Linked DNA regions of Homo sapiens. The protein of the gene in region 1 purifies or fractionates together with the protein of each later gene. This does not show direct contact. Each region holds a gene or a part of one and is shown on either strand. Other genes may lie near its edges. The genes, in order: AGT and RIPK4.

Evidence for each region.
Region 2: the proteins of AGT (region 1) and RIPK4 purify together in Homo sapiens (affinity purification with mass spectrometry, with the first as the bait; 2 studies listed by BioGRID). This does not show direct contact.

The regions. Positions count from the first base shown.
Region 1 is NC_000001.11:230,703,812-230,707,622, reverse strand, and holds part of AGT (angiotensinogen precursor), read left to right. Parts: intron 1-1,422; coding exon 1,423-1,690; intron 1,691-3,285; coding exon 3,286-3,430; intron 3,431-3,811. UniProt on the Homo sapiens protein: Essential component of the renin-angiotensin system (RAS), a potent regulator of blood pressure, body fluid and electrolyte homeostasis.
Region 2 is NC_000021.9:41,760,503-41,764,313, reverse strand, and holds part of RIPK4 (receptor-interacting serine/threonine-protein kinase 4), read left to right. Parts: intron 1-3,811.

The DNA.
Region 1 (3,811 bases):
ACCCTGCAGTTTCCCGCTCACATGCCCTTCCGAGACTGAGTGCTCCGAGGACTGAGGACGAGAAATATGCCAGGTCTGCCACTGCCTTCTTACGAGACCCGGACCCAGGGGAGGCACAGCCATGCCCAGCTCCTGCCTGCCAGTTCTGTCCTCCCAGCTGCCCTACTTTCATGCTGGGACCTCCAATTCAGTACAAAGGGAGACCTCACTGTTTCTGAACCATCTCTACTCAGACTCCCAAGTGCCACGTGCCCAGGGGACTGTTCTGTGACAAACTTATACACAACTTCACCCTATTCTCCTAAGAACAACCGCAGAATAGGCCTTTCAGGATGAGTGGGAGGACAGCCGAGGGCAGGGATGTGCTAGTGTAAGGTCGAGGCAGAGGGTGGGCTGCTGTCATGGAAAGACCCCAGGTAACTGCGTCACACACAAATTTGTGTCCTTCTCCCACAACGGGCTCTCCCGAGTTCTCTGTCATCTGCACGGCCCTGTGAGCAGGAGGGGAAACAGAGGGCTCACCCCTGCCCCCAAGGCCCAGTGTGCAAATCCATTCATCACAACGAGGTTGTGTGAGTCTCCCCAGTAGCAAGGGCTGCTGAGGAATGGAGCCCTCGTTTCCGGGGCCTGCGTGGCCCACTCTGTATTCTATGACTGTGATGGGGGAGGGTGGGGGCCACAGGACAGCTGGTGGGCTCTGCCATGGCTGGGGCTAGACATGGATTAAAAAGTGAGTATGAGCAGGGGCCTCTAGGAGTGGTGGGATAGTGCGGTGGTGGCCACATGTCATTCTACGTGCGTCCAAACCTACAGAATGTAAAACACCAGGAGGGAGACTCAAAGAAAACTATCAACTTTGAGTGCTGAGGACGTGTCAGTGTAGGTTCGTCAGTTGCAACAAATGGGCCACGCTGGTGTGAGATGTTGATCACGGGGGAGGCTGTGTAGTGGGGGACAAGAGTTATATGGGAACTTTCTGTACTTTCTGCTCGATTTTGCTGTGAACCTAAAGTCACTCTAAAAAATAACATCTCTTAAATTTTTTAAAAAGTGAGTGTGTCAAACCACAGCCTTTGGGTCAGGACAGTTCTAGGTTTGAGTTGACCTGGCAGGTACCAGTGGCTTATGTCCCTTAAGGTGACAGATGCAAAACCCCCGGTTTGGTGCCTGGCATGTTGTGTGTCTTGCAGGTGGCGGTTAGGGCTGCCTCAGTGAACTCAAATGGCTGCATTTTACAGGAGAAATATTTGAGCCACACTTGCGGTCCTGTGGCCAGGAGAATGCAGAGTGGCCTGGGGGGGGCCAAGGAAGGAGGCTGAGGCAGGGCGAGGGGCAGGATCTGGGCCTTTGGTGTCTGCCAGCCCTCATTCCTGCCCCTGTCTTGGGTGACTCTTCCCTCCCTGTCTCCTGTCTGGATTTCAGGGAAGATGAAGGGCTTCTCCCTGCTGGCCGAGCCCCAGGAGTTCTGGGTGGACAACAGCACCTCAGTGTCTGTTCCCATGCTCTCTGGCATGGGCACCTTCCAGCACTGGAGTGACATCCAGGACAACTTCTCGGTGACTCAAGTGCCCTTCACTGAGAGCGCCTGCCTGCTGCTGATCCAGCCTCACTATGCCTCTGACCTGGACAAGGTGGAGGGTCTCACTTTCCAGCAAAACTCCCTCAACTGGATGAAGAAACTATCTCCCCGGTAGGAGCCTCCCGGTCTCCCCTGGAATGTGGGAGCCACACTGTCCTGCCCAGGCTGGGGGCGGGGTGGGGAGTAGACACACCTGAGCTGAGCCTTGGGTGCAGAGCAGGGCAGGGCCGCGGTGGCACGGGGCTGGGCAGGCGGCCTGTGTGTCTGTCTACCAGTCCTCTATCCAGCCAGCACCCAGCTCTCCAGTTAGTGTCTGTCTTTCAAGTGCAGGCAAGGTAAAGGAGGAGAGGAAGAATGCTTTTTCTACACTTACACTTGCCTGGTAGTTTTGGAGGGGGAGAAAACATTGCAATCCGCCCTCTGAGAGAGGACCATTTTGGTCCCACACCTGACACACAGCACACCTGTGACATCCAAGAGCTTCTTGGAACTGACTTGCCAGGAGGGTTCGGACTTCGCGTGAGCGGGGGTGGGGCCTTCTCAGGGAGCGTCCCTTGACTCCAGAACGCCCTTGCTGGCGGCTGGCGGCTGGGTGGGGATAGGTGTTGTTAGCTCCTCTTTCCTGCTGCAATTCCTTTCCACAGAGCCCTGGACTCAAACTACACATCACCCCAGATCATCGAGGCCTGGAAATCTGCTCCCAGAGGCAGGCATTGAGTGACACGATGGCTTGACATCAACTCTGGGTGTTTTTTATGTTTTAAAAATTGTGATGGTAAAATATACGTAACAAAATTTGCCATCGTAACCATTTTCGAGTGCACAGTTCAGTGGTACTAGGCCCATTCACACTGTTGTGCAGCCATCACCCCCGTCCATCTCCATTTATCTTCTCAACTTCCCAAACTGAAGCTCTGTCCTGCTGAAACACTAACTCTCCATTTCCCCTTCCCCTTGGCCCCGGCAACCACCACGATGTCCTCGAGGTTCACCCATGTTGTAGCACATGTCAGAATGTCCTTCCTTTTGAAGGCTGAATAATATTCCATTGCATGTGGTTACCACCTTTTGTGTATCCACTCATCCATCGATGGACACGTGGGTTGCTTCCACCTTTGAGCTGCTGTGAATAGTGCAGTGTACCCTGTAAACATGGGTGTACTGTCAGCTCTTATAAGTGCTTGATACATCACTGGAAATGTCCATGGGCTCTGAAGGATGCCAAAAGATGGAAGAGGCTCTATACGAAGATCAATCGAGTTGACATAGCAACGTGTCCAGCACGAGGTTGACACTGTACCCTCCTGCCTCTCTCCTTTTCATGGGTGTCATGTCATCAAGAACACTGCTGTGGCAGTAGTAAGACACAGTGCATTATTTCAGAGAATAGCATTTAAAAATTACCCAAGTAACACACCTTCAATGCAGCCAACCTAAAAACAGAATGCACCAAAGGACAACCATTCCTAGGTCCTCATCGGTAAATCTTCTATGTCCCTCACATAGTATTGCAAATGACATGAAGGATTTTTATTGTAGGTTTTGCTGAAATTTTCCCCAAGGGGGAGGATGACTTAGTTGGGTGATGGGGGGAGCAAACATCCCTGTCGTCAGGGTTGGGTGCAAGGAGCATAAGCCTGCCTGGCCTCTGGGAGAGCCCTCACTGTGTGGCCTGGAGCCTTCCTAACTGTGCATCATCTCCCCAGGACCATCCACCTGACCATGCCCCAACTGGTGCTGCAAGGATCTTATGACCTGCAGGACCTGCTCGCCCAGGCTGAGCTGCCCGCCATTCTGCACACCGAGCTGAACCTGCAAAAATTGAGCAATGACCGCATCAGGGTGGGGGAGGTATGTGTGAGCCTGTGTCTGTGCCTGACCTGGGTTCCAAGTGTGCACAGGGTGGGAGGCATGGATGTAAGGGACACAGAGGAGGCTATGGGTGGGGCCAGCAGGGCAAGAGGGAGCGGAGAGTAGGGCCAAAGGTGGGAGAGAAGTAGCCAGAGCATTCTGGGGCCTTCCAGGTGCAGAGCAGCAAATCCCTCCCCATCCCTGCTGTGCCTCCTCCTGCTAGGTGTGTGTTCCATGGTCCTGCTTGGCCTTGCCTTGCCTCAGGGTCCTCCAGGGTTCCTATAGTGGAGTTGAAACCGGGATGAAGACAGCAAGCACCCCTGGACCTGGTGCCCTGGGCCCAGCCCCTTCTTCAGGGAAATGCTGAGCAGCAGACAGAAT
Region 2 (3,811 bases), on another chromosome or scaffold:
CAAGGTGGTCTGGGGTCTCCTGGCTCCCTGCAGCTCCCCTGGGCCAGGCCTTCAGCCGGCCCTTGGCCACAGCACCTGCTCGGGGCTTGTTTGATGAGCAGGCTGCGCCAGGCCATGTGAGCTTGCTTTTCTGTGCAGGAAAGGTTGGGGGGCCGCCCAGCCCCCAGACACTTAGCGAGGCTCCCAGGGACAGGAAGTGCCTGCCAGGGGGCCCTCCTGGGAGTTCACAGGTGACACCCCATTGATCTGAGATTACCTTCATCATGGGGCTCGGTGCCTCGGAGGGTCCTGTGGGGTGGCTTTGGAGAGGCAGCTGGCCTCCCTGGCTGACCCTCATTGTGGGGGTCACAGGGCCTAGGGTGGGGTGTAGGGATGGGTGCTGTGACCAGTTTGGAGAGAATAAAGTGATCCCAAAGGCCCCGTTCCTCCCCTACCAGCCCCCAGCTAAGGGGATGCTCAGAAGAAGCCAGTGCCTGCGGGGCGCCGGCTGGGAGACGCTCCTGCCACATTCAGCCCTGGCTGGTCGGGGCGAGCCTGAGCAAACCCCAGGTTTGTAACAACAGAGCTGACGATTGGACAAGCCCGTTTCTTGTCAGTTTTAAAAATAGCCGTGTGGGAACCCCTCCGAGGCTCCCTGGGAACATAATTGGATTGGTGTGCAGAAGGCCTCGCTGAGAGGCATCAGCTAACAGATGATGAAACACATTTTCCGGCTGCATTTTCCTGAAGGTAGTTGCTAGGTTTCTCCTTCGGAGCTCTTTGTTACCTGAGCGGTCTCACCGTCTCCCCCACCTCCCTGCTTCTCACTTTTCCCTTCGTTTATTGCTTCTCCGCTTGCACAAGACCATGTCCCGGGGCAGTTCTTTCCCCCTTTCCAGGATGCGTGCTTGCAGGGGAAACCGCAGCTGGCCTGGTCCACAGGTCTTTGGAATTTCTGAGCCTGGAGAAGAACCTTGGGACTTCTTTAGAAGTTCCTTTTAGAGATGATTGGTGTGATGATATTTCTCGTATTTCTCGCTACTCCATTGGCCTCCCTGGGAGGGCGAAATACACTTTGGCTAGCCCTAAATGAGGAGAAAACCGAATTCATCTAAGTGCTACTCACCGTATCTTTAAAAAGTTGAACCCCAAGTTAATCCTAATTAATGCCCAGAGATTTTTCATGTGGAACCCAAAACAGGACCCAGGACACTTTTGCGGGGGAGGGGGGGCTTTTCCCGTTCCTGCGTGGAAGCAGAATTAGCAACGCTTTCACCAGCAGCGAAGGAGAGGGGAATAGGATGCCACCCCCTCTGAACTGTGCCTAAGCGTAGCTGCGCTTGGAGCAAGGCACAGTTTTTAGGTTGTGTTTTAATTAACACCGACGAGAGGGGCTTCTGGTCAACCCAGAAACGTTGACTTCACTGTCAACAGTAAGAAATGCGATTTGGAGACGGTGCGAATGTGACTGTGTGATGTTCTGTGCTCCCTGGCCGCCACCCCAGCACCTAGGCTGGATTCGGCATCTCTCCACGTGTTAAAATGATAATAGTAATAAATCTACAGTTCCTTTTGTGTGGTCATCAGAATAAGCCAGAATCATTAAAATAAGCCAGAAACACTGCTTAGGAGAAAAAAATGTATTAAAAAAAATAGTGCCATTGCTCAAAAGCAATTGGTGGGTTCTTTCTGTGCTTCGAGTACCTGAGCACTTCTTAACCTCCCTGATCAGAAAAGCCTCTTCTTGCAGCTTGTTGCAAAGAGGCCCTTTCAGGCTTATTGAATTGCAAATGCCGCCGGGCGACACCCGACCCCAGAAGGGCTGGAGCTTCCTAAAGCCGCTGGAGTTTCCCAGATGTGCGCCTAGGGAGCACCTGGAGAGGGGCTGGAAGGCGGGGTCGTGTGGGTTTTGGCCCAGTGGTTACTGGATGGTAAACAGTGTGGAAAGTTTCTGAGGACATGCTGGTGCTTCTGAGCGAAATCCAGGCTGGTAGGCAAGGGAGCCGCCCCACCCCCACTCCTGGGCCTCAGATCTCCCACAGGGCGGTCCCGGGACCCCCTTCCTCAGCTGGAATCCTGTCTACCCCAAGCCAGTTTGGATCATGCTGTCACAACACTTTTGTCCACGGAAACAATGACTTTTTTTTTCCAGGACAGCTGATTTTCCTCGAGAAAGTGCCCTCAAATGTGTGGCCCATGGAAGGGGGAAGTCGTGCCGGGCTCCCTTCAGGCAGTTGCGCAAAGCTGGGGTGGACTCCGTTAGGAGATTCTAGCCGGGATCCGCTTTCAGGAGCCAACTAGCAGCAGTGGCCCTTTTTTGTTTGTTTGTTGTTTCTTTTAAAGTAAGGTAAATGGGGTCTCCGTTCTGCAGAAAGAGCCCGGGGCAGGGAGAGTAAAGTACTTGCTGAACTCGGTGCGCTGGGGAGGGGTGTGCACTGCTGCCAGCCCGTAGCTGTTAGAGTCGCCAATGAGCTCACTCTGCAATCAGAAGTCACCGGGGTTTTATGTATTAAGCCCTTTGGGCAAATAAAAGAAAACACTATTTGTGGAGTGGCTCAGAGCTTCCACTTAATAAGCTACTCAGCCTTCCTTTGATTGACATTGTTCTCAGAATACGTGTTTATTATCAGTCAGCTTTGGCTTAGAGAGTTCACTCTCAGAATGTCTACTTAATGTGGAAAAATGACCCTTGCGAATGGCTGGCCTCTAAACACCCGAATTGTCATTTCCTCAAAACCCTCCGGCGAGGAGGGTGTGCCTCACACGGTTGCACAGTGGATGTGGGTCTGAGTCCTACGGAAGGACTTTCGCCAGCGCCCCGGGGCAGAGTGTCCGGAGGAGGGAGGCCACACTGGTAGGGGAGGGGCGGCAAGCTGGCCACATTTGAGCAATCGGAAACAGACAAATCATAACTCTGATTCTTAACAAGACATAAAAGAGAAGCAGCAGCTGGTACCATGTCCCAGTCCGATGGTTTGGAAGTTAGTGGCAGTTGCCGGGTTGGAAGTTGTGCTGGTATTCCTTTAAATAACAAATGAGGGCCTCAGCCAACCGGTGTTCCCAGAGGAGGAGAAAGGCTGGGAGCTGAGAGGTGTCATTTTCCTTCTTTGGTGACCGGTTTCATTTTAGCTGATGCTTGACGTTGGCATCAGGTCCTCGTCTTCCTTTTTTCCCAATGCTCACTGAGACTGGGGACAGGGTTGAGAGTCCCACGATCTGATCTGCACCCCCCATCCCTTGATGGGTCCCAGAGCCTGGCCCAAGCCTGTGGCTGCAGGGAGAGGGATTTCCCCTGGAGAGGGAGGAAGCAGCCGATGGTATGCTGGTGATGGGGCAGCTTTCAGCTCAGCCCAGGGACCCCCACAGGCTAGCACTGCACACTGGTGGGCATCTTGTTTTCCATTAGTTGGTCATTTAACCAGAGCGCTAGGAAAGCAGGCCGTGCTCCCCTAAGTTTTGTCTCATAATAATTTCACGTTCATTCCTGATACTTGCTTCACTTGTTCCCAAGGCCAGTGGGATTCTTTGCTCCTTGAGTGTATTCAGACACACTCGACCTGCCCACCCCCCACACCCCCCAGCTGCTCCTCCTGGGGTGCTCCCGCGTCCACCGTAGAGAGCTGCCTAGTGACCCCTGGTGCAGCTCCAGAGAGGTCCTGCAAGCTTCTCCCCTCCACATGCAGTCAATGGACCCATCCTGCAGATTCTTCCAACAGAGTGTGTGTGCTCTGCTGGCTTCCCCTCTCTGCTTTGCCAAGCCCAAGGGGATCCACAGCGACTGCTCCGCTCTGCTGGCCTCCCGGGTGCCCCTGGACTCTGCGCAGGTCTCAGC